7 linked regions of the Homo sapiens genome follow. The protein of the gene in region 5 purifies or fractionates together with the protein of the main gene of each other region. This does not show direct contact. Each region holds a gene or a part of one and is shown on either strand. Other genes may lie near its edges.

The links.
Region 1: the proteins of CPLX3 (region 5) and ATE1 purify together in Homo sapiens (affinity purification with mass spectrometry; one large-scale study listed by BioGRID and IntAct). This does not show direct contact.
Region 2: the proteins of CPLX3 (region 5) and LYG2 purify together in Homo sapiens (affinity purification with mass spectrometry; 2 studies listed by BioGRID and IntAct, with this or other methods). This does not show direct contact.
Region 3: the proteins of CPLX3 (region 5) and CAPN12 purify together in Homo sapiens (affinity purification with mass spectrometry; one large-scale study listed by BioGRID and IntAct). This does not show direct contact.
Region 4: the proteins of CPLX3 (region 5) and DUSP14 purify together in Homo sapiens (affinity purification with mass spectrometry; 2 studies listed by BioGRID and IntAct, with this or other methods). This does not show direct contact.
Region 6: the proteins of CPLX3 (region 5) and VSIG8 purify together in Homo sapiens (affinity purification with mass spectrometry; 2 studies listed by BioGRID and IntAct, with this or other methods). This does not show direct contact.
Region 7: the proteins of CPLX3 (region 5) and DSG4 purify together in Homo sapiens (affinity purification with mass spectrometry; 2 studies listed by BioGRID and IntAct, with this or other methods). This does not show direct contact.

What each region holds. Positions count from the first base shown.
Region 1 is NC_000010.11:121,914,532-121,918,031, reverse strand, and holds part of ATE1 (arginyl-tRNA--protein transferase 1), read left to right. Parts: intron 1-3,500. UniProt on the Homo sapiens protein: Involved in the post-translational conjugation of arginine to the N-terminal aspartate or glutamate of a protein. This arginylation is required for degradation of the protein via the ubiquitin pathway. Does not arginylate cysteine residues.
Region 2 is NC_000002.12:99,241,746-99,245,666, reverse strand, and holds the end of LYG2 (lysozyme g-like protein 2 precursor), read left to right. Parts: intron 1-208; coding exon 209-405; intron 406-1,529; coding exon 1,530-1,668; intron 1,669-3,184; coding exon 3,185-3,303; 3' UTR 3,304-3,421; downstream 3,422-3,921. UniProt on the Homo sapiens protein: May act as a potent antibacterial protein that may play a role in the innate immunity.
Region 3 is NC_000019.10:38,732,084-38,734,474, reverse strand, and holds part of CAPN12 (calpain-12), read left to right. Parts: intron 1-85; coding exon 86-156; intron 157-270; coding exon 271-333; exon of another isoform or gene 334-337; intron 338-534; coding exon of another isoform or gene 535-563; exon of another isoform or gene 564-693; coding exon 694-772; exon of another isoform or gene 773-773; intron 774-2,391. UniProt on the Homo sapiens protein: Calcium-regulated non-lysosomal thiol-protease.
Region 4 is NC_000017.11:37,496,391-37,499,890, forward strand, and holds part of DUSP14 (dual specificity protein phosphatase 14), read left to right. Parts: intron 1-3,500. UniProt on the Homo sapiens protein: Involved in the inactivation of MAP kinases. Dephosphorylates ERK, JNK and p38 MAP-kinases. Plays a negative role in TCR signaling by dephosphorylating MAP3K7 adapter TAB1 leading to its inactivation.
Region 5 is NC_000015.10:74,829,627-74,832,302, forward strand, and holds the end of CPLX3 (complexin-3), read left to right. Parts: exon of another isoform or gene 1-75; intron 76-503; coding exon 504-728; 3' UTR 729-2,176; downstream 2,177-2,676.
Region 6 is NC_000001.11:159,856,737-159,859,657, reverse strand, and holds part of VSIG8 (V-set and immunoglobulin domain-containing protein 8 precursor), read left to right. Parts: intron 1-745; coding exon 746-924; intron 925-1,366; coding exon 1,367-1,568; intron 1,569-1,691; coding exon 1,692-1,913; intron 1,914-2,921.
Region 7 is NC_000018.10:31,404,277-31,407,776, forward strand, and holds part of DSG4 (desmoglein-4 isoform 2 preproprotein), read left to right. Parts: intron 1-1,800; coding exon 1,801-2,097; intron 2,098-3,500.

The sequences.
Region 1 (3,500 bases), on a different chromosome or scaffold from region 5:
CATTTTCCATATTTACTCTTCTGGTTATTTTTACCTTGTATATAACAGCAGTTGCAATGAGAACTTAGATAAAGGAAAGGGGCTTATAGCTAACAGCTTAGCTTCTTGTTAGTCAGTAGGGACTCTCCAGTATGTGTGTATAAATGAGGATGAACTTTTCTGGCTATGATTTTTTAAGTTTTTTATTTTTATCAGAATTCCACATGCTCATTAAATGTCAAGTTGCAATAAAGTTTGTTTTGGAAAAAGCAATCCCCCAACCCCCCTGTCCCATTTCCTGTTCCCCTAAGGCAGTCATCTTGAAACATTTTAACTAATTCTTTTGGTTTTTCATCTCCCTGTCTTTAAGCAACATGCTTATATAATTGTAACACTTGCATTTTTTTTCTTTTTCTGTTAGTTTTCTCCATTATTTCCGGGCTTCTCTCTGTGGAAGATAAGGATTTAGTTTTCTCTTATCCCTGTTTCCCTGCCACATTCAAGCTCGTTTTTGTCCCCATCCCTAGCTTTCCATTCAGAAGTGTGATTTTGGGCAGATGTGTTCATATCCATTGTGACTGTGTAAATATGCTTCACAACTGAACCATGGCGGGTACTGTGATTACTTTTCCTGCACAAGTTTTTGCTTTCCTTGGAGTTACTAATTATCTTTTTTGTTTGCATAGTGTATATAACTATGACCAGATTATTTTGAAAATAAATCCCAGTTATGTAAGTTTTTTCTTAGTATATTTAAACGCATCAAGTGCTATGATCGCTTTTATCTACTTGAGAAAAGTCCCTTGTGGAGCCTTCTGACCGGCTTGATCTGAACAGGTTACCCCCTGCACCTGAAGCATCACGGTCAGCCTGGGCTATTTTTTTTTTTGAGATGGAGTTTTGCTGTTGTTGCCCAGGCTGGAGTGTACTGGCACAATCTCAGTTCACTGCAACCTCCACCCTTGGGCTCAAGTGATTTTCCTGCCTCAGCCTCCTGAGTAGCTGGGATTACAGGCGCCCACCACTATGCCTGGCTAAGTTTTGTATTTTTAGTAGAGATGGGGTTTCATCATGTTGGCCAGGCTGGTCTCGAACTCCATACCTCACATGATCCACCCACCTCGGCCTCCCAAAGTGCAGGGATTACAGGCATGAGCCACCATATGTGGCCTGGGCTATTCTTTTTACTGTCATCTTGGGGATTTTTTTTTTTTGTTTGAGACGGAGTCTCGTTTTGTTGCCCAGGCTGGAGTGCAGTGGCGCGATCTTGGCTCACTGCTCCCTCTGCCTCCCAGGTTCAAGTGATTCTCCTGCCTTAGCCTCCCGAGTAGCTGGGACTACAGGCATGTGCCACCATACCTGGCTAATTTTTTGTATTTTCAGTAGAGACGGGGTTTCACCGTGTTAGCCAGGATGGTGTTGATCTCCTGACCTCGTGATCCACCTGCCTCAGCCTCCCAAAGTGTTGGGATTGCAAGCGTGAGCCACCGCGCCCGGCCTGGGGATTCTTTTTAGCACCTGAGTTGGAAACCCTTCTTTCTTGGATTATTCCCTTGTTTTAGTGAAGCACATCTTCTAATAGAGAAAGTGCATAAGAGTTACATTTTTGAGACCTTGTGTGTCTGCAAACTTTGATTCACTGCTCAAACTTTAGTTTGGGAGGGTACAGAAGTGCAGGATGAAAATAATTTTTCTAGAATTTTGTTCCACTATCGTATTATTACTGTTGAGAAGTGCGGTGATATTCTGATCCTCATACCTTTGTCTGAGACGTGTTCTTTCTCTTTGGAAGTGTTCCTTTTTTTTGTTGTTGTTTTTTGTTTTTCGAGGCAGAGTCTCGCTCTGTTTCCCAGGCTGGAGTGCAGTGGTGTGATCTCTGCTCACTGCAAGCTCCGCCTCCTGGGTTCATGCCATTCTCCTGCCTCAGCCTCCTGAGTAGCTGGGACTACAGGTGCCTGCCACCACGCCCGGCTAATTTTTTGTAGAGACGGGGTTTCACCTTGTTAGCCAGGGTGGTCTCCATCTCCTGACCTTGTGATCTGCCCGCCTCGGCCTCCCAAAGTGCTGATATTACAGGCATGAGCCACTGTGCCTGGCCGAAGCTTTTCTTTTCTTCTCTTTTTCTTGTTTTTTTTTGTTTTGTTTTGTTTTGTTTTTTTTTTGAGATGGAGTCTCACTCTGTTGCCCAGGCTGGAGTGCAGTGGTGTGATCTTGGCTCACTGCAAGCTCTGCCTCCCAGGTTCATGCCATTCTCCTGCCTCAGCCTCCCAAGTAGCTGGAACTACAGGTGCCCGCCACCACGCCTGGCTAATTTTTTTTGTATTTTTATTAGAGACAGGGTTTCACCATGTTAGCCAGGATAGTCTCGATCTCCTGACCTCGTGATCCGCCTGCCTCGGCCTCCCAAAGTGCTGGGATTACAGGTGTGAGCCACGGCGCCCGGCCTCTCTTAGGAAGCTTTTCTATCCTCTGTTCTACATTTCATAGTCAGTTTGGCTATGTGTCTGTTTTTATCCATCACAGACAAACTGGAGGGGCCCTTCTTATCTGGGGGCTCGTCCCATCTTATCCTTTAGTTCAGGGGAATTTTCTTAAATTTTTTATTCTATCTTTTCACCTCCATTTTCTTTTTTAATGCCTTTATTTAGATTTTGGACCTTTTAAACTAGTCTCTGACTTTACCTTTTCTCTTCAGTTTTTCATCTTTTTTGCAGAATCTTCTGGAAGGTTTCTTCAACTTCAGTTTTCAGGTCTTCTACTTAATTTTTACATTTCTCCTGTCATATTTTTACTTTTGAAGTTGTTTTTGTTCTCAGACTCTTATTTGTTTATTTAATAACACCTTGTTATTTTATGGATGTAGTGGCTTAATAAACGAGATCTTCCTAAGGATTTTTTTAAAAGGTTCTCTTCTTTCTGTCATGGTCTATGTCCTCCAGGTTACTTTCTCCAGTTTGTTCGGTACCTATCTTTTCAGTGGAGGCTCTTCTCGAGTGTCTGGTGATTCTGACTTTTCAGTGTTCCATTGGAAATTCCGTGTACCTGATGGGTTTGGTTTACTGTGGGTCTTGGGTGTTTCTCGGCCTTGTTTACTGTGGGTGATCTGGCTGGGCTCTTCTGTTGGGGAATCCCTGATGTTAGTATTTTTAGGTCTGATCACATTCTGGAGAGAAAGTATTTCATAACCTGCTGTTGTTCTGGACCTGGGTTGGTGATCTCAACATGTACTGTGTACACTTTTATTTAAGCCGTTTTCAGTAGTACCGCTGCTTTCAGCTGTGGCTTGCATCCATCCTGTAAGAGGCTCTATGTTACTCTTTCCTGCAAGTTTGCAGTTTTCTGCTGGGTTGAGTAGGGAGTCGTCTAGTCATCTGCGGATGGGAGAGGGGATCTGACATCTATCCTAACTGCTTCGAAAACAAGACTTTGAAGGGATCTTTCTATTTTTAGACCTAACTTTCACTCATATTTCCAGAGCTATGAGGTGTCACCAATCCCTAAGACTTTTAAGGGTAATATAG
Region 2 (3,921 bases), on a different chromosome or scaffold from region 5:
AAGAAACAGTTTCTTTTCTTTTTTTAACTTTAAATTCTTTTTTTTTTTTTTTTTAATTAGAGATGGGCTCTCACTATGATGCCCAGGCTGGTTTCGAACTCCTCCTGGGTTCAAGCAATCCTCCTGTTTCAGCCTCCTGTGTAGCAGGAACTGACTTCAGGCACACACTACCATGCCCGGAAAAACAGTTTCTTTTCTATTGACGTAGGGATCCGTGGTTCTGAAATGTTTGCTGAGATGGATTTGAGGGCCATAAAACCTTACCAGACTCTGATCAAAGAAGTCGGGCAGAGACATTGCGTGGACCCTGCTGTCATCGCAGCCATCATCTCCAGGGAAAGCCATGGCGGATCTGTCCTGCAAGACGGCTGGGACCACAGGGGACTTAAATTTGGCTTGATGCAGGTATTTAGCTAGAAACTTTCTATCAGCCCCACTGCATCCCTCCTCACAGAAGCTCAACCTGAACTAGAAATCCATTTGCAGTGCTTCCAAGCCCCAAAATACCCTGGCATCTGGCTACAGGTACTCCAGCATAATTTTTTTTTTTTTTTTGAGATGGAGTTTCATTCTTGTTACCCAGGCTGGAGTGCAATGGCGTGATCTCGGCTCACTGCAACCTCCACTCCCGGGTTCAAGTGATTCTCCTCCCTCAGCCTCCTGAGTAGCTGGGATTACAGGCACACGCCACCATGCCCAGCTAATTTTTTGTATTTTTAGTAGAGACGGGATTTCACCTTGTTGGCCAGGCTGGTCTTGAACTCCTGACCTCAGGTGATCCACCCACCTCAGTCTCCCAAAGTGCTGGGATTACAAGCTTGAGCCACTGTGCCCGGCCACTCCAGCATAATTTGATCTGGGATTTCTGTAACACATCTTTTTATTTTATTCAAGGCTTATTCATTATTAGATATATTTTAAAAAGTATTTTAGGAGTTTCATAACTACCATTCTGCAATAAATAATATGTAATACACTAAAACTGAGAAAATCTTATAAATAGCATTATTGTTACAGGTGTCCTCTTGGGGTTCATGAAGTAGTAAATTTCATCCATGTGGATCAAAACATGGTATAACTGTGCCCTACTTGAAACAACTTGTTCCTTTGGGTAAACTGGAGGAAGGGGATCCAAATTATCTGGATATTTGCTTCCAGGCTCGATTTTAAATTGTCTGTAGAAATACAGACTTCTGGCCTTCCCAGTTAGAAACAAATTTTTATCTGAATTAGCTGGATAATTATTTATTACTATAAATGTGTAGACTTTGGGTGTTATTTGTTTCAAAACAACTTAAATTTTTTTTTTGTATATTAGAATGTTTAGCTAAAACTATACCATGTCCATTTCTCCCAAACCTTACTTTGTTTCTCTGACTCTCATCTATATGAAAGAAAGAACAATAGAATTGACTCTTTGGGGATAAAGGCCGGTATCTATGACTTGAATACCAGGAGAGGAAATTAGGAATGGCAGAAAAAATGTGTTACCTCATCCAGATGCTGACTTTATTATCTGAATTTTCTAGCTTGATAAACAAACGTACCACCCTGTCGGTGCCTGGGATAGCAAAGAGCACCTTTCACAGGCTACTGGGATTCTAACAGAGAGAATTAAGGCAATCCAGAAAAAATTCCCCACGTGGAGTGTTGCTCAGCACCTCAAAGGTAGGCTGTATTCTGAGTACTTTGTTTAAATGAGCAATGAATGAGACCACTGAAGGCCAGTGTGACCCGAGACTCCCTGGGAGCATTTCCACGGGGTCAGCAGTGGCCCTGGGAGGAGCTGTCTAGAGGCTGCATTTGCATTCCCTGAACCACTGAGTTACTTTGAGAGGTCCTCCATCCTCAACCTCCATTTCCTCTTCTGCAGAATGTTGGGGTTCTTATTCATTGCTTACTGAGCTATTGAGTGATACCTTGAAACATAGTGAGACCCTGTCTCTACAAAAAAAAAAAAAAAAAAAAAAAAAGCTGGGCATGGTGACACACAGTCCCAGCTACTCAGGAGGCTAAGCCAGGAGGATTGCTTGTGCCTGGGAGGTTAAGGCTGCAGTGAGCATTGATTACATCACTGCACTCCAGCCTGGGAGACAGAGTGAGACCCCATCTCTCAAAAAAAAATTTATCTATCTATCTATCTATCTATCTATCTATCTATCTATCTATCTATCTGTTTGCCTACCTCTCATAGGTTTTTTCCTGTTATAAGAAACTGTCAACAACTTTCCAAATTGTCTGAACAATGTTACTCTGTGAGTATTTTCGGGACTTCAGGTGCTATATATCCAAGTGGAAATCTCTGCTTGGCTGACCACAGGCCCCCTCAAGTTCAGCATCTCCCAGATGGAATTAACTCACTAACTTCCCACTATAAATTTGCTCTTTCTTCTGCATTTTACATGTCTTGGAGGCACCATAATATAGCCAGTCATCCCAGCCTGAAAACCAGATTGCTTTCTTAGGCTCTCTGGTTCCTTCTCTCTTCACACCCAACCACATCAATTCCTATTAGGTTTGCCTCCTATTGGCCAATGTTATGTCCTCCACACTCTAACGGCCTTAATCAGAACAGTTTCTAGTCTCTACTTCAAGGTCCTTGAAGGCAGGGATCAGGACCAGGCATCTTCCTCTCTGGATATCAGAGCAGAGCACAATTATGTTAAACACATACATAACTACTAGAGATAAAATTCTAGGGTAAAATAGCACACACATGCATATGTACACATACCCAAAGAAATAAGTGTGTCTTGGGTACCTTGCAGTCAGTGTGGCACCTCTCCTGGCACATAGTAGGTGCTTGAAAACATTTCCTGAATGAATAAATGAGTGAGTGAATAGATGAGTGAATTATTGAATAAATGAGAGAATGTTACAAGCATTTTCAGCAGAGGATGTACTGGGAGTCTAGTTCTGCCAGGCCTGGATTACATAAAAAAGCAAATCTGATTTTTGCAACAAGAAAAACCAAAGACTTTGGAAAAAGAGAAAGAAAGCAATCTGGAATTTTCCCAGTGATTCTTGGGATAGCACGTCCTTTCAGAAAGGGAGGGAGAGGGAGGAGGATTTGGGACTGCCTGCTTTGGAAGATTTGCCTGGAAAGCTAACATCTTGGCAATGCTCATTGCTTATTTCTGTTGAAAGTTAATATTTGAGCCTAATTCTCTGTGTTTCATTTCAGGTGGTCTCTCAGCTTTTAAGTCAGGAATTGAAGCGATTGCCACCCCATCGGACATAGACAATGACTTCGTCAATGATATCATTGCTCGAGCTAAGTTCTATAAAAGACAAAGCTTCTAGGCAAAGCTCTGTGGGTGGGCCAGGTTGGCAGAGTGCTCAGATGGCCGCCTTTGAGAGTTTTACGTGAATGTGTTGTATACAACACTGGCAAAGAAATGATTAAAATCATGAAAGAAAATTCATTTCCCAATTTTCTGAATGAAAATAAGCATTGAAAAAAGGAAAGAAAAATAAAAGAAATCCATCCAGTTCACAATATGGTTCCTAGGAAACGGACATAGACATATATATAATTACTTTGCAGTAAATGTGAATATCATGGCAAATGGTCCCTAGGTATTCCAGCCAGGCTTCATTTTAGCCTGTGATTCCAATGCCCACCTACTCCCTGTCTACCAGAATTGCTAACAAGTTAAGTAAGCCTTACCCGAGCCTTTGTCTTTTTTCCAGTATCTGCCCAGAGCCCTCAGGCTTTGCTTATGAGAAGTTCCTGACTCGTAAGCCAGCCAATCCATGGGACAATGGAAGAAATAGGGATGGAATTCTAGCTTCATGGGAAACTGAGAGCCAACTGAGGTGAAGCTGTCATTCAAGTTAGATACACCAAGTCCTTCAAACCCACAGCAACCTCCTGTGTTTTCTTTTGTCTGTGAAGATCCAGGGACTGGCTTTTCTTAT
Region 3 (2,391 bases), on a different chromosome or scaffold from region 5:
GCTTAAGGGAGTCACATCCACCCAGCCCTTAAAGTGGTGGCCAGAATGCAGGAAGTGCTGTGGTTTGACTTTGTTTTTCCTGTAGCCAGGGCCCATACCTCCACCCCCAGAGAGATCGGGCTCAGGACCTGTGAGCAGCTGCTGCAGTGTTTCGGGGTACATGGGGGGCAGTGCCTGGGTGAGGGAGGGAGTGGGGAAGGGGACGTTGGGGTCTCTCCTCCCCTTCTGGAGAGATTGACCTTAACCAGATGCCCCCGACCCCCAACACAGCATGGGCAAAGCCTGGCCTTACACCACTTCCAGCAGCTCTGGGGCTACCTCCTGGAGTGGCAGGTGAGGTGGGAGACTGGGCCTCTTCCCAGAAAGAGAGAAACCTTTACTAACAGAGACATAGGCACCCTGTGGGCTATCAGGTCCCCAGGGAACGAGGGGGTACTGGACTAGGCTGACTTGGAGAGATCTGGCTGGGATATCCCTGCCCCCACCCAGCCTCAGCTTGTCCTCTGGGTCATTGCTCTTATTCCCATTTTACAGATTGGGAAACAGAAGTCCCAAGTGGCTAGGCTGCTTGCTGGGGGTCCACACCAGAAGAAAGGGAGTTGGGATGGGCACCAGGCTGTCTTGCCTGGGAGGCCCCATTGGCAGCCCTCTTCAGGGCATGGAGGGCAGCCCTGACTCATCCTTCCTGCCCAGGCCATATTTAACAAGTTCGATGAGGACACCTCTGGAACCATGAACTCCTACGAGCTGAGGCTGGCACTGAATGCAGCAGGTGTGGACAGGGTCCTGGGGTGGTCGTGGGGACAGGACCTGTTCTCTCCCATCCCATTGTCTCCAAGTCCCCCTGCTCAGCTGTGGCCGTCTGCACTGTGGCCATCCACAGGCCCACACCTTAGCTTGTTGCCAGTCCCTGGCAGGGGTTGGGTGACCCTGAAAGAGGCCAAATAAGGAAGGAGAAGGGCAAGGGGCGTGTGTGGGGTGGGGAGGACATGAAAGGGGGATGTGCCTGGTAGGGGTTCTGGGGCAGGGAGAGGCCCCTCCAGGAAGGGGAAGATTAGGAGCTGGTATCTGAGAGGGTCTGGCCCCCAGGGCAGCATGGTAGAATGTTCTGGATTCTGGTGCACCGGGGTTGGAATCCTCACTCTACTGACTCCAGGAGGGGCCCTGGGCACTTGACTTCATCTCTTTGAGCCTCCATTTTCCTCTCTAAAATGGCCAGGGCCTGGTGTGGTGGCTCACACCTATGGTCCCAGCTACTCAGGAGGCTGAGGCTTGAGGATGGCTTGAGCCCGGGAGGCTGAGGCTGCAGTGAGCCGTGATTGTGCCTGGGTGACAGAGCAAGAGCCTGCCTCTCAAAAAAAAAAAAAAAAAGCTAGTACACAGGGTGGTGAGGAGTCGTCCATGCACTGCAGGGCATAGCACTTAGTGATTGGAGAATGCAGCTTTCATTACCAAAAGCCCCAAAGAGAGCCGGCCAATGGCCTCTGCTACTAGGCTGAGTTCCTCCTGATGAGCTGGAACAAGCCCAGCACAACATCCTAACCAAGAAAGAGAGCCAGAGAGAAAGGCTTTCCATGGGCTCCAAGGCAGATGAGACAGTACAGCACTGTGACCCTCATGTGGAGGGGATTTGGAGAGTGGGCTGGGGTCAGAACTTGGAGTTCCCAGATCCCCAACCCCACTCTGGGGCCTGTCTGCCACCACACAGCAGATGGAGCCACAGGGAGATGGGGGCTGGGGTGACTGTGATGGAGTCGGAGAGCCAGAGGGAGAGGGTTTGGGTGTGGCTGTGAGTGTGAGACCCAGAGAAGGTGGTCAAGTGTCCAAAAGAGCCAGCCGGGCGTGGTGGCTCACGCCTGTAATGCCAGCACTTTGGGAGGCTAAGGCAGGCAGATTGCCAGATTGCTTGAGCCTAGGAGTTCAAGACCAGCCTGGGCAACATGGCGGAACCCCCGTCTCTACTAAAACTACAAAAATTAGCCAGGCGTGGTGGTGCGTGCCTGTAATCCCAGCTACTTGGGAGGCTGAGACAGGAGAATCTCTTGAACCCGGGAGGTGGAGGTTGCAGTGAGCCAAGATCATGCCATTGTACTCCAGCCTGGGCAACAGAGCGAGACTCCGTCTCAAAAAAGAAAAAAGAAAAAGCCCAAGTCAAAGGGGGAGAAATGGGGTCAGAGACAGCCAAGGATTGGGAGACGTGGGGCAGAGAGGGAGAGGCTGGGCCGGAGATAGACAGGAGTGGAGGTGAGGGAGCAAGGACTCACAGCAGGTGGCAGGTGGCAGGCTTGTGTTCACGCATCTGGCACCAGTGAGTGCCTGTTACATGCCAGGAGTTATTCCAGGAAGAAGGAAACTGATAAAGTGCCCTTGAGAATTTCTCAAACGGGAACT
Region 4 (3,500 bases), on a different chromosome or scaffold from region 5:
GGTCAAAAGTTCAATCGAGACTAGCCTGACCAACATGGTGAAACCCCATCTCTTATAAAAATGTAAAAATTAGCCGGGTGTTAGGCCGGGCACGGTAGCTCATGCCTGTAATCCCAGCACTTTGGGAGGCTGAGGCGGGTGGATCATGAGGTCCGGAGTTCGAAACCAGCCTGACCAACATAGTGAAACCCCGTCTCTACTGAAAATACAAAAATTAGCCGGGAGTGGTCGTGGGCCCCTGTAATCCCAGCTACTCCAGAGGCTGAGACAGAGAATTGCTTGAACCTGGGAGGCGGAGGTTCAAGTGAGCCAAGATCATACCACTGCAATCCAGCTTGAGTGAAAGAGCGAGATTCCATCTCAAACAAACAAAAAATTAGCCGGGTGTGGTGGCATGCACCTGTAATCTCAGCTACTTGGGAGACTGAGGCAGGAGAATTGCTTGAACCCAGGACGAGGCAGTTGCAGTGAGCAGAGATTGAGCCACTGCACTCCAGCCTGGGCAACAGAGTAAGACTCTGTCTCAAAAAAAAAAAAAAAAAAAGAAAAGAAAATTATTGAAAGCAAATTAACCAGCATCATAACTCACCATTCAAAAATCATTGCTCATACTTTATCTTTTATAATGCTTAGAAATTAAGTATTATCAAGTCAGAGCTTCCTTGGGCCATTTCTCTTCCCTTCCCACTGAGACAACCACTCCCATGAATTTGGTACATTTCCTTCCAACTCTATTTAAATATCAATTTTACTTCAAACTGCATTTTTTTTTTTTAAAGACAGAGTCTCTTCCCCAGGCTGGAGTTCAGTGGCACAATCTCAGCTCACTGCAACCTCCGCCCTCCAGGTTCAAGTGATTCTCTTACCTCAGCCTCCTGAGTAGCTGGGATTACGGGCACATGCCACCATGCCCAGCTAATTTTTGTATTTTTAATAGAGATGGGGTTTCACTGTGTTGGCCAGGCTGGTCAAACCCCTGACCTCAAGTGATCCACCTGCCTTGGCCTCCCAGAGTGCTGGGATTACAGGCATGCGCTACCGCGCCCTGCCTTCAAACTGCTTTTTTGATGAATGTCAAAAGGACATAGAGGCCTGGTGTGGTGGCTCATGCCTGTAATCCCAGCACTTTGGGAGGCCTAGGGAGGTGGATGGCTTGAGCCCAGGAGTTCGAGTCCAGCCTGGGCAACATGGCAAAACCCTGTCTCTACAAAAAACACAAATTAACCGGATGTGGTGGCTCATGGCTATCGTTACAGCTACTTGGGAAGCTGAGGTGGAAGGACTGCTTGAGCTCAGGAGGTCGAGGCTGCAGTAAGCCATGATTGTGCCACTGTGCTCCAGGATTCTTGCTCAAAAAAAAAAAAAAAGACAAGACAAGACTAAGCATGGTGGCCCATGCCTACAATCCCAGCACTTTGGGAAGCTGAGGCCAGCCAGAGTATCACTTGAGCCCGGGAATTCAAGGCCAGCCTGGGCAACGTGGCAAAACCCTGTCTCTACAAAAAATTAGCCAGGCATGGTGGCGCACCCCTGTAGCCCCAGCTACTCAGGAGGCAGAGGTGGGAGGATCGCTTGAGTCCCAGAGGTTGAGGCTGCAGTGAGCCTAGATTGCACCACTGCACTCCAGCCTGGGTGACAGAGCAAGACCCTGTCTCAAAAAAAAAAAAAAGGACAGAAATCTTTACTAGCCTTTATTTTGTACTGTCACATATGTTCTATGTTTAGGGGATGGAACTCTTAGAGCATTTCACATTTCACATGATATTTCTTTTTTTTCCTTTTTGTCACATGATGTTTCTTGTTAACAAAAATTGGAGAAGTATTTAGTGTTTTACAGAGCTTCAATTACTTGGTGTAAACTTTCAGCCAAAGGTGATCCAAAATGGAAATGGAGTAGAACTTGTTTTGTGTACTAGATTGTATCTTTTTTTTTTTTTTTTTTTTTTTTTTTTTTGAGACAGAGTCTCGCTCTGTCGCCCAGGCTGGAGTGCAGTGGCGCAGTCTCTGCTCACTGCAAGCTCCGCCTCCCCGGTTCACGCCATTCTCCTGCCTCAGCCTCCCCAGTAGCTGGGACTACAGGTGCCCGCCACCACACCTGGCTAATTTTTTGTATTTTTAGTAGAGACGGGGTTTCACCGTGTTAGCCAGGATGGTCTCGATCTCCTGACCTCGTGATCCACCTGCCTCGGCCTCCCAAAGTGCTGGGATTACAGGCGTGAGCCACCGCACCCGGCCTAGATTGTATCTTAAATCCAAATGACTACTGTATTATATGAAAGTAATCAGTTTTTTTTTTTTTTACAAAAATTACACTTACGGAGTTTCTTATTCCATTTATCCTCCTAGAAAGTACAGGAGATATTTTTTCCACAATATCAGATTACTCTTAATAATATTTTTAGATTCCTTCTAAAAAGGTACTTACTAGAAATGTGAATTCCCAGGCCTTCACTTCCAGAAATTCTGATTAATTAGGTCTGGGGTGGGGTCTAGGAGTCTGCATTCTAACAGGCAGCCCAGGTGATTCTCGTGTAGGACTCCTTGGGAGCACACTTTGAAGAATGCGTCTACTATGCTGTGATGGTTTTATAACTTACTAATTTCAACCAAGGATTGGTGTAGTAGCCCATTCTCACGCTGCTATGAAGAACTGCCTGAGACTGGGTAATTTATAAAGGAAAGAGGTTTAATTGACTCGCTGTTCCACATTGCTGGGGAGGCCTCAGGAAACTTACAGTCAGTGCAGGCAGGGGAAATGCCAGACGCTTATAAAACCATCAGGTCTCATGCAACTCACTCAAAATCACCAGAACAGCATGGGGGAAACCGCCCCCACCTGGTCCTGCCCTTGACACGTGGGGATTATGGGAATTACAATTCAAGGTGAGATTTGAGTGGGGACACAGAGCCTAACCATATCAGTTGGCAAACTTTCTTTTTTTTATTTTTTAAATTTTTTTATTTTAAGAGATGGGGTCTCACTGTTTGGCTCAGTCTGGAGTACAGTGGCATGATCCTGGCTCACTGCAGCCTCGAACTCCTGGGCTCAAGCAATCCTCCTGCCTTGGCCTCCCAAAGTACTGGGATTACAGGTGTGAGCCACCACACCCGACCCTCTAGAAGTGTTTTTGTTTGTTTGTTTGTTTTTTGTTTTTTGAGACAGAGTTTCGCTCTTTCACGCAGGCTGGAGTGAACTGGCGCGATCTCGGCTCACTGCAACCTCCATCCCCCCGGGTTCAAGCGATTCTCCTGCCTCAGCCTCCCGAGTAGCTGGGATTATAGGTGCCCACCACCACACCTGGCTAATTTTTATATTTTTAGTAGAGACGGGGTTTCACCATGTTGGCCGGGCTGGTCTCAAACTCCTGACCTCAGGTGATCCACTCACCTCGGCCTCCCAAAGTGCTAGGATTACAGGCGTGAGCCACCATGCCCAGCCTAGAAATGTTTTACTAATTAGTAATGTAGTCTTCTAAAGGGAACTATTACATTGTCATATT
Region 5 (2,676 bases):
AAATGGTACCCATCACTATTTTTGGTTACACCCTTAAGCATAACAAGAGTCAAAACATGACTTAGCTGACTGTAACAGTGTGACTCATAGGTATTTTCATTTTGTCTTTACTCACTGTGCTGGTCCTTCAGCATCTCAGAGTGAAATAAGGTAATATAAAAAGGTCTCCATGTCCAGGCATCAAACGCTTGATCCTGGGATGTGGGGGTGGGAGCTGAGCTCACTGGAACATGGGGCTCAAGAATCTAAGGGGCCGGGCACAGTGGCTCATTCCTGTATTCCCCCGGCACTTTGGGAGGCCAAGGTGGGCATATCACTTGAGCCCAGGAGTTTGAGACCAGCGTGGGCAACATAGGGAGACCTCGTCTCTACAAAAAAAAAAAAAAAGAAAAAATAGAATCTAGGGGCCTGGAACCCAGTCCAAGCCTCCTCCCTGTCCTCTCAACTCTGGGTCCTCACAGACTTCCACTCCACCCCACCCCCTCTTCCCCTCTTCCCTTCAGAACGAGACAGATGAGAGCCAGATCCAGATGGCAGGTGGAGACGTGGAGCTGCCCCGGGAGCTGGCCAAGATGATCGAGGAGGACACAGAGGAGGAGGAGGAGAAGGCCTCAGTCCTTGGGCAGCTGGCCAGCCTTCCTGGCTTGAACCTGGGCTCACTCAAGGACAAGGCCCAGGCCACACTGGGGGATCTCAAGCAATCAGCTGAGAAGTGTCACGTCATGTGACCACTTCCCCGGGGTTACCCACTGGGCTGGGCCCCCATGAGGGCTAAGAGTGTGTCAACTTCCAGGGACCCATACTCCATTTGGGGCTTTGTTTCCCTTGCCCCATCCTAGTTCCAAGACCTTTCCCATCCATGCCCCAAGCCTATCTTCTGGTTTCTTCCTCTCCGCTGGGAGTAAAGTCCCCATCTTCACTCTACCCTTCAGGACCCTCCCCACCAGCTCAGCCTGTGGAGGCCTCCCAAGATTGTAGGAATAGGCCCATCCCTCTCTGGCCATGGCCCCAAGTTCCTGCACACAGGAGCACCCACAGAGAGACACACACAGGACACAAAACCCCTGGCACGTTCAGAGACAGAAGCCACAGATACATCCCGGCACAGACAGACACACACGAGGCCAGCTCCCTTGCGTGTCCAGCCCCTCCAGACACCACCACTCAGAAACTCTGAGAGAGAGCATGGGCAGACACCCTCAGCAGACAGGAGGCCTGAGTTCCAGTCTCCACCTTTATTGTTCTTGAAAGCCCCTGCTCTCTCTGAGCCTTATTTCATCATCTGTAAAATGGGAATGTCCTGAATGACTTCTAAGGCTCTTTCTGGCTTGAACTGTCAGAGCCAAGCCCACATCCCTCCTTGGGCAGGGCAGCAGCTGCTGCCACAGCCTCCAGCGGCTGCCACTGTGGGCTCTGGGAGCCGGAGCGATGCTGTGTGAGAGGCAGAGTGCCAAGGATGAAGCTGGCACTGAACAGTAAGCGGCTCCAGGCCTCCTCTGGGCCCAGGGCCCAGCCAATTTCTGTTCTGTTCCTGTAGAACGCTCTCTGGATTCCATAGCTGGAATCTCCTCTCTTAGCTCAGTGAAAAATAAAAATCCCAAATGGTGTGCCTACCTTCCCACTTCTTACTGGCTTCCAGGAGTCTTGGAGTTCATAGCCCCCCGAGCCTGCCTTAAAGGGGTGTCCTCCACCCCCCACCTACAGCTTCACAGGAGGGGAGAAGGCATCCAGTGCTAGGAGTAGAAGTGTCTCCAGCTCTGTTCTCTTGGGGCCCTGGGTGAAGGTGGGGTCTGGGGCTTATGAAATAGGTCTGGGCTTTGAGGAGGATGGAGCAGCCTCATTATGTGGGGAAGATGGGGCCTCTGGGGCGTCACTGAGACCACAGGTGGGGCCGGGGCTGGACCGCAGCTGTCTTGGGTGCCTGTGCCTACACCCCTCCTCACCCTAGAGACGGAAGATGTGCAAAAAGAAAGAAGGAAGGGCAACTGCATTCCAGCCCCACACTGTGATGACTTTGAGCCTGTCCTTTCCCTCCTTGAGCCTGTCTTGCTTGTCCCCTGTAAAATGAACAGTCCCCCTCTCCCCCAAATAGTAATAATACATGTTTCAAAGGGTGACCATTTATAAAGCATATGACAAACCATATCAATAAATGTAACTCATTCTTTTAAAAAAATGAAGAGCCCAGATCTCATCCCGCTCACCTGTGGCAGGGGCTGAGGGGCAGGGGTCAGGGGAGGTTTAAGAAACCAGCCAGGAAGCTCCCCAAGCAGGTCGCCCCAGGGGCCTGGGCAGGAGGAAGGTGCTATGGGGCCAACCCTAGGTGCCCCACCCCGAGGTCCAGGGCCCGGCCTGTAGGGAAGCCAGCCAAGGTTCACAGGCAGGAGCGGCTGTCTGAGGATTGGGTTTCAAGGGCAAAGTTTCCATGAGGTCTCCTTTGTAAAATAAAAACAAGGCATATACAACCTGTACAGGAGATCATGCGGGGCTGGAAGAGAGGAGACAGGGCAGGGAGAGACACAGGCCCAGCCCTGGAGTCTGCTGCTGAAGCTGTCACTCTTGGTCTCACTCTCCTGAGTGTCCCCAGGGAATGGGCCTGGGCCTCTGAGCTGCTCCTGGGCTGCCCCCAGGCCAGGGCCTCCTCCTGACCTTCTCAGAGCTGGAGGAGACCCAAGC
Region 6 (2,921 bases), on a different chromosome or scaffold from region 5:
CACGAACACAGCCAGGCTCCTGGTCACAGCTGTCCACTGTCATGCACAAGCACACACTGTCACTTTTAAGCACTTACATAGCTCACATGGTCACACATCACTATACAAAACCACACAGAGGCATACAGCCACAGACTCACACTGTCATACACAGACACACATAGACACACTTAGTCTTTGGCTTCTCAGGCTGGAGAGGAGTCCCAGAAGCCATTGTAACCACCCCGCTGCCTCTGGACAGGAGGACTTCACTCAGCCCAGACAGAGCCCACATAGGTGACATTTAATCAGCCAGGCTCTTCTATCAGAGCATTTAACAACTCTGTGTGTACCACATGCCTTCACACACACAAACACATCCACACTATCATATAAATATATAAGCAGACACGCTACGTGGTCATGTACATGAATATCCTCACAGTACACATAAGCAGCCACAAATACTCATAAGCATACAATGTACATACGTGTACATATTCATACATGCATACACATAATCATATATACATACAAGCATACATAACAGCTACATATATAACAGCTATATGTATAGCTGTTATATGCCTGTGACAATTCATGCACACACACATACACACCCACTACGAGCAGCCCTCCTTTTTATGAAAGCACTGCTGACCTCTGGGTGCCGTGGACAGAGAATATGAAGGGAAGGGCTGACACTGACTCCTCCTGAAGCCCTGCTTCTGCTCCTACCACCCCATCTTCTCTGCCCTCCCCCTAGCACTGCTGTCTGCTGTGCGGATCAACGGGGATGGACAGGAGGTCCTGTACCTGGCAGAAGGTGATAATGTGAGGCTGGGCTGCCCCTACGTCCTGGACCCTGAGGACTATGGTCCCAATGGGCTGGACATCGAGTGGATGCAGGTCAACTCAGACCCCGCCCACCACCGAGAGAACGTGGTGAGTGCTGGGCACAGGGGTCTCCTTCCTCTAGGCTTCATGATGTCTACCTGTTGGACAGCCAACATCCCAAAGGGAGAAGACTGACCTTGAACCTCCCCCAAGGCCTTTCAGGGAATGAGGCAATGGGGATGAGAGCTCTGCAATTGTGAATTAAGCTAGCCAGTCAGTCTACCTCCTCCCATCCCATTCTAAAAGGAAGATAAGTTGTAGTCTTTGCCTTCAAAAAGTTCCCAGTCTGACCATATATCTTTCCAAGTGCTTGATCTCACCTGATCTCACCAGTTCTGTAAGAGGTCAGTGGCTCAGGCATCATTATTCTCATTTTTTCAGCTGAGAAAAGAGTCTCAGAGAAGTTCAGTGAATTGCCCAAAGCAGCCAATCCACATGGCCCTTCTTGGCTCTGCCTGTTTCACCACCTGTTTTCCTCTCCTCTTCACAGTTCCTTAGTTACCAGGACAAGAGGATCAACCATGGCAGCCTTCCCCATCTGCAGCAGAGGGTCCGCTTTGCAGCCTCAGACCCAAGCCAGTACGATGCCTCCATCAACCTCATGAACCTGCAGGTATCTGATACAGCCACTTATGAGTGCCGGGTGAAGAAGACCACCATGGCCACCCGGAAGGTCATTGTCACTGTCCAAGGTATGGCCAGACTCCTCTAAGCTCCTCTCCCCCTGGCTTAAGAGCCAAGGGCAGCTTGGCCACTTTGAGCCTGGCTCTGTCTCTTGGCTGGGCCCTGGCTTACAATTGTCTGCCTCCTTGCAGCACGACCTGCAGTGCCCATGTGCTGGACAGAGGGCCACATGACATATGGCAACGATGTGGTGCTGAAGTGCTATGCCAGTGGGGGCTCCCAGCCCCTCTCCTACAAGTGGGCCAAGATCAGTGGGCACCATTACCCCTATCGAGCTGGGTCTTACACCTCCCAGCACAGCTACCACTCAGAGCTGTCCTACCAGGAGTCCTTCCACAGCTCCATAAACCAAGGTGAGAGGGCCCTGGATGAGGGCAGTCGGGGGTGAGTGGAAGATCAGGGACTCTGGGACCTGTTGGGGTTTCCTTGGGTTATCAGTGCCATCAAATCAAACCTGGAATCCCTGTGGGAGACCCTCCCTCTGGGCCTGCCCCAGCAGCTGCTATTTTTTTTTTTTTTTTTGAGACAGAGTTTCGCTCTTGTTGCCCAAGCTGGAGGGCAATGGCATGATCTCGGCTCACTGCAACCTCTGCCTCCCGGGTTCAAGCGATTCTCCTGCCTCTGCCTCCCGAGTAGCTGGGATTACAGGCATGCACCACCGCACCTGGCTAATTTTTTGTATTTTTAGTAGAAACGGGGTTTTACCATGTTAGCCAGGCTGGTCTCAAACTCCTGACCTCAGGCGATCCGCCCGCCTTGGCCTCCCAAAGCGCTAGGATTACAGGCGTGAGCCACCGTGCCTGGCCCAGCAGCTGCTATTGAGAGCAGATGATAAGGCAAATGTGGAGAGTCAGTCAAAAGTACTATGGCGAATTTGGAGGGAGCCTGGTCTCAGACAGAGCTGGGCTTGAATCCTGGCTGGGACACTGACTGGCTCCAAGTTTAAGGCAAGTGGCTTACCCTCCCTGTGCCTTAATTTCTTCATATATGGAAAGGGAATACTAACATATACCTTTCATGGGCATGCAAGGATTAAATGGGGGAGGTGTGTAAAGCTCCTAGTACATAGAGAAGCTGAAAATATTCAGTCAAACAAAGAATAATAGAGCTAGGAGGGACCTTAGAGTTCCTCTTCCCCTGGCTTCTCCTGTCCTCACTGTACAAAGGAGGAGACCAAGGCTCAGAGAGCGTACATATTTCCCTAAGGTCAGAGTGAATTAATGGTGTCCCTGTCTTGCTGCTGGGAGAGAGGTCCTTTCTTGCATCTCTTTCACAGCAGGGGGAAGGTGACTCACCTGGAGAGTGGAGTGTGTGTGTGTGTGTGTGGGTGTGGGTGTACACACATGCATAAGCCTTCCCTT
Region 7 (3,500 bases), on a different chromosome or scaffold from region 5:
AAAGTGAAAAACAGATCACGAAGTTGTATATGTATGTATCTTGACTATAACTACATACAATTGAATGGCTGACATCGATAAAAATTAAGAATAAATTTCAGATAACATAACATTTTATCTACCTTGCGTTCTTTTTCCTAAAACGTTAAGTGCATAATAAAAAAGAAAATGCTATGAGAGGATCTCATATGGGCTAAGATAGCTCCCCAATCTCATATTCATTTGGGGCTACAGGGAAAATTTCATGGGCTAGTCGGTGGCCATCAGACTACAGAGCCCAGGGTGAGAGGAAATACTTCCCACCTCTTTAAGGTCACCAAGCCCCTCTATTTACAGAATGGAGAAACCCTAAAATAAGGTGGGGAAAATACCACCAATAAAGTAAGAAATTAGGCAATTTGTTTTTACCATCAAACCTTTAGCTCTTTTCAACAAAACCACTTTAATATTTTTTAAAGTTAATCATGTTAAAGCAATTCCATTAATATCAAGTCAACTCTGAATTCACCATCTCCTATAAAGCTCAATAGCCCATTCATAAACAATAATAATTGCTAACCACTTTTTTCCTCATTCGGATCCTAGATATTATGATTACACATGTAAGAAAAAATGTTCTGCATGGAGGTATAATATTATAGCTATTACAGGTTTGCCAATAAAAAATATAACCACACTGGAGATGATATTCCTAGAGACCTGTTTCAATGCTTGCTGGTGTTTTAGAACAGAATGAATTTCACTTAATGTGCTGTGGCATTGCCTTATCTCATTTTTACCTTGTGCACAGGTTAGATTTTGGTGGACATAGCTGGCTTGCCATCTAGCTAACTGAGGATAATAAACCATCATAATAAAAAATATTGTGTGCTATGGATCAATCAGTTACTATTCATGGTTTAGCTGTAAATTTAATCATCTCAACACTCCTTGTATTAATAAATAAATTCCAATGAATATTTTAGACAATATGTTTTATGAAAATTCATAGGCAATGATAGCACAAAGAATTAGGAGAATGTGAACAATTTTAAATGAAAGGGCAACAATTTTGAGTAAGATACATATAAACAGTCTTAAGGAGGGTATTGTGTAAACTGTAATCCTAAATAGAAGACTTCTAATATTTTCTTTCAGCTCAATATTATTTATTCATTGGGCAAATATTTATTGAATGTATATTATATGCCAATTACTGTTGCTCTGGAAAGATGCAGCAAGGTCCTTGCCTGCATTATAGAAGTAGCAATCCAGCAGTAAGCAATACTTATTTAAAAATTAGTTATAAATGTTAAAAAAAAAAAGAAAGAAAGAAAAGTAAAAAAGGCCAGGCAGAATGGCTCATGCTTGTAATCCAAGCACTTTAAGAGGCCAAGGCAGGTGGATTGCTGGAGCCCAGGAGTTCAAGACCACCCTGGGCAATATGGCAAAACCCTGTCTCTACTAAATGTATATATATTAGCCAGGCATGGTGCCACACACCTGTAGTCCCAGCTTCTCAGGAGACTGAGGTGGGAGAATCACTTAAACCTAGGAATCCAAGGCTGCAGTGAGTCATGTTCGTGCCACTGCACTCCAGCCTGGGCAATAGGAATGAGACTCTGTCTCAAAAATAACAAGAATAATAATAATAATAATAAATTAAATAAATGTTAAAAAAAAGTACAAGGTGCTTTATGACTAAGAAAGCATGAAAAATCTAGTGTTTTAAGTCAATATTTGGTATTAGGGAGAGTTAACCACCCCCCTAGCCCACCAAGGAATTTCCATTTATTTTCTGTTTCCTCTCTTCCATTTCAGCTACCTCGGCAATCCTTACGGCTAAGCAGGTTTTATCTCCAGGATTTTATGAAATCCCAATCCTGGTGAAGGACAGCTATAACAGAGCATGTGAATTGGCACAAATGGTGCAGTTATATGCCTGTGATTGCGATGACAACCACATGTGCCTGGACTCTGGTGCCGCGGGCATCTACACAGAGGACATAACTGGTGACACGTATGGGCCTGTCACTGAAGACCAAGCTGGAGTTTCAAATGTTGGTCTTGGACCAGCAGGGATTGGCATGATGGTTCTGGGCATCCTGCTACTGATTTGTAAGTACTCAATTAAATCCTTCTTTTCAATAGTTCTTCAAAATAGGGCTGTTACGAGGCTCGCTGGGATGGTTAGGTTCATGGAGCCATTTCTTTTTGGTATCTCTAGCAATTTTTGAGTGCCTTAGAAATAAACAATGGGACTGACAAATATATGCGCTTAATCCACAATGATAACTAAGAAAGCCTAGGGTGAGTGACAGTCCTAAAAATGGGAAACACATGCAAATCACTACATATACTACCTAAAAGCACAAAACAAATCCCATCATGGAAATTTCCTTAAAATGCTTTAAGAGTAGAGAGGCAGAAGCAATTAAGTCCATGTGGAAAAGTTAGGACAATCTTTTGGAAAAGTGGATTTTGAGGTGAGCCTGAAAAGCTGAGGATTTTTTTTTTCTTTTTTTCTTTTTCTTTTTTTTGAGATGGAATCTTGCTCTATTGCCCAGGCTGGAGTGCAGTGGCGCAACCTCGGCTCACTGCAACTTCTGCCTCCCAGGTTCAAATGATTCTCCTGCCTCAGCCTCCCGAGTAGCTGGGACTACAGGCGCCCACCACCACGACTGGCTAATTTTTGTACTTTTAGTAGAGACGGGGTTTCACCATGATAGCCAGGATGGTCTTGAACTCCTGACCTCGTGGTCCACCTGCCTTGGGCTCCCAAAGTGCTGGGATTACAGGCATGAGCCACTGCACCCTGCTGAGGATTTCTTTTAAAGGAGGATGATGTCTAAGGAAATTTGAAAGGTAATCAAACACACACACACAAAAAAAAACCACACACACAAACAAAAGGGAGCAAGATATGGAAGAGCATAGCACACCTAGGAAGCAGAGAGGCAAAAGGGAGTCTGGGAGCCAGCATGGAGGCATGTTCATGACACACCAGGCATTCTGGGCTTCAGTACAATGGCACAGAAGAGTTGATGAGGGCTGATGAGCGCAGGTGACCCTGCGGTAGGAAGCAAGTAGAAGAGACTAGAACAGAGAATTAGCCTCTGGGCTCTGGGTGAGTGCCTAAACTAAGACTGGTCACAGAAGTGGAAAGATCACCAAACAAAAATTTCCCAAAAAGGGCCCTCCTTTCCCCATAGAGTTTTTTTAAACATATAGATCCTCAGAGGAAGAATACTTCATACATTTTAGGTTGCCCTTGCAATATTTAGGTTTCATGGGGATCAAAAGCTGGGTTCTAAAATTAAAGAGAAGTAAATTTGTCAAACTGTATTGTTGCTGTTTTCAGGGATGAGCACTAATTAAAATGTAATCATTTCAAGGCATAAAAAATAACAGCTGACTTTTGGTGAGGATTTCTTTTTTGAAATAATCTGTGAGGTTTCAAAGCTATGCAAAGATCATGAGTGATTCTCACAATGATATTAGACACATTTTCCCAGAATATA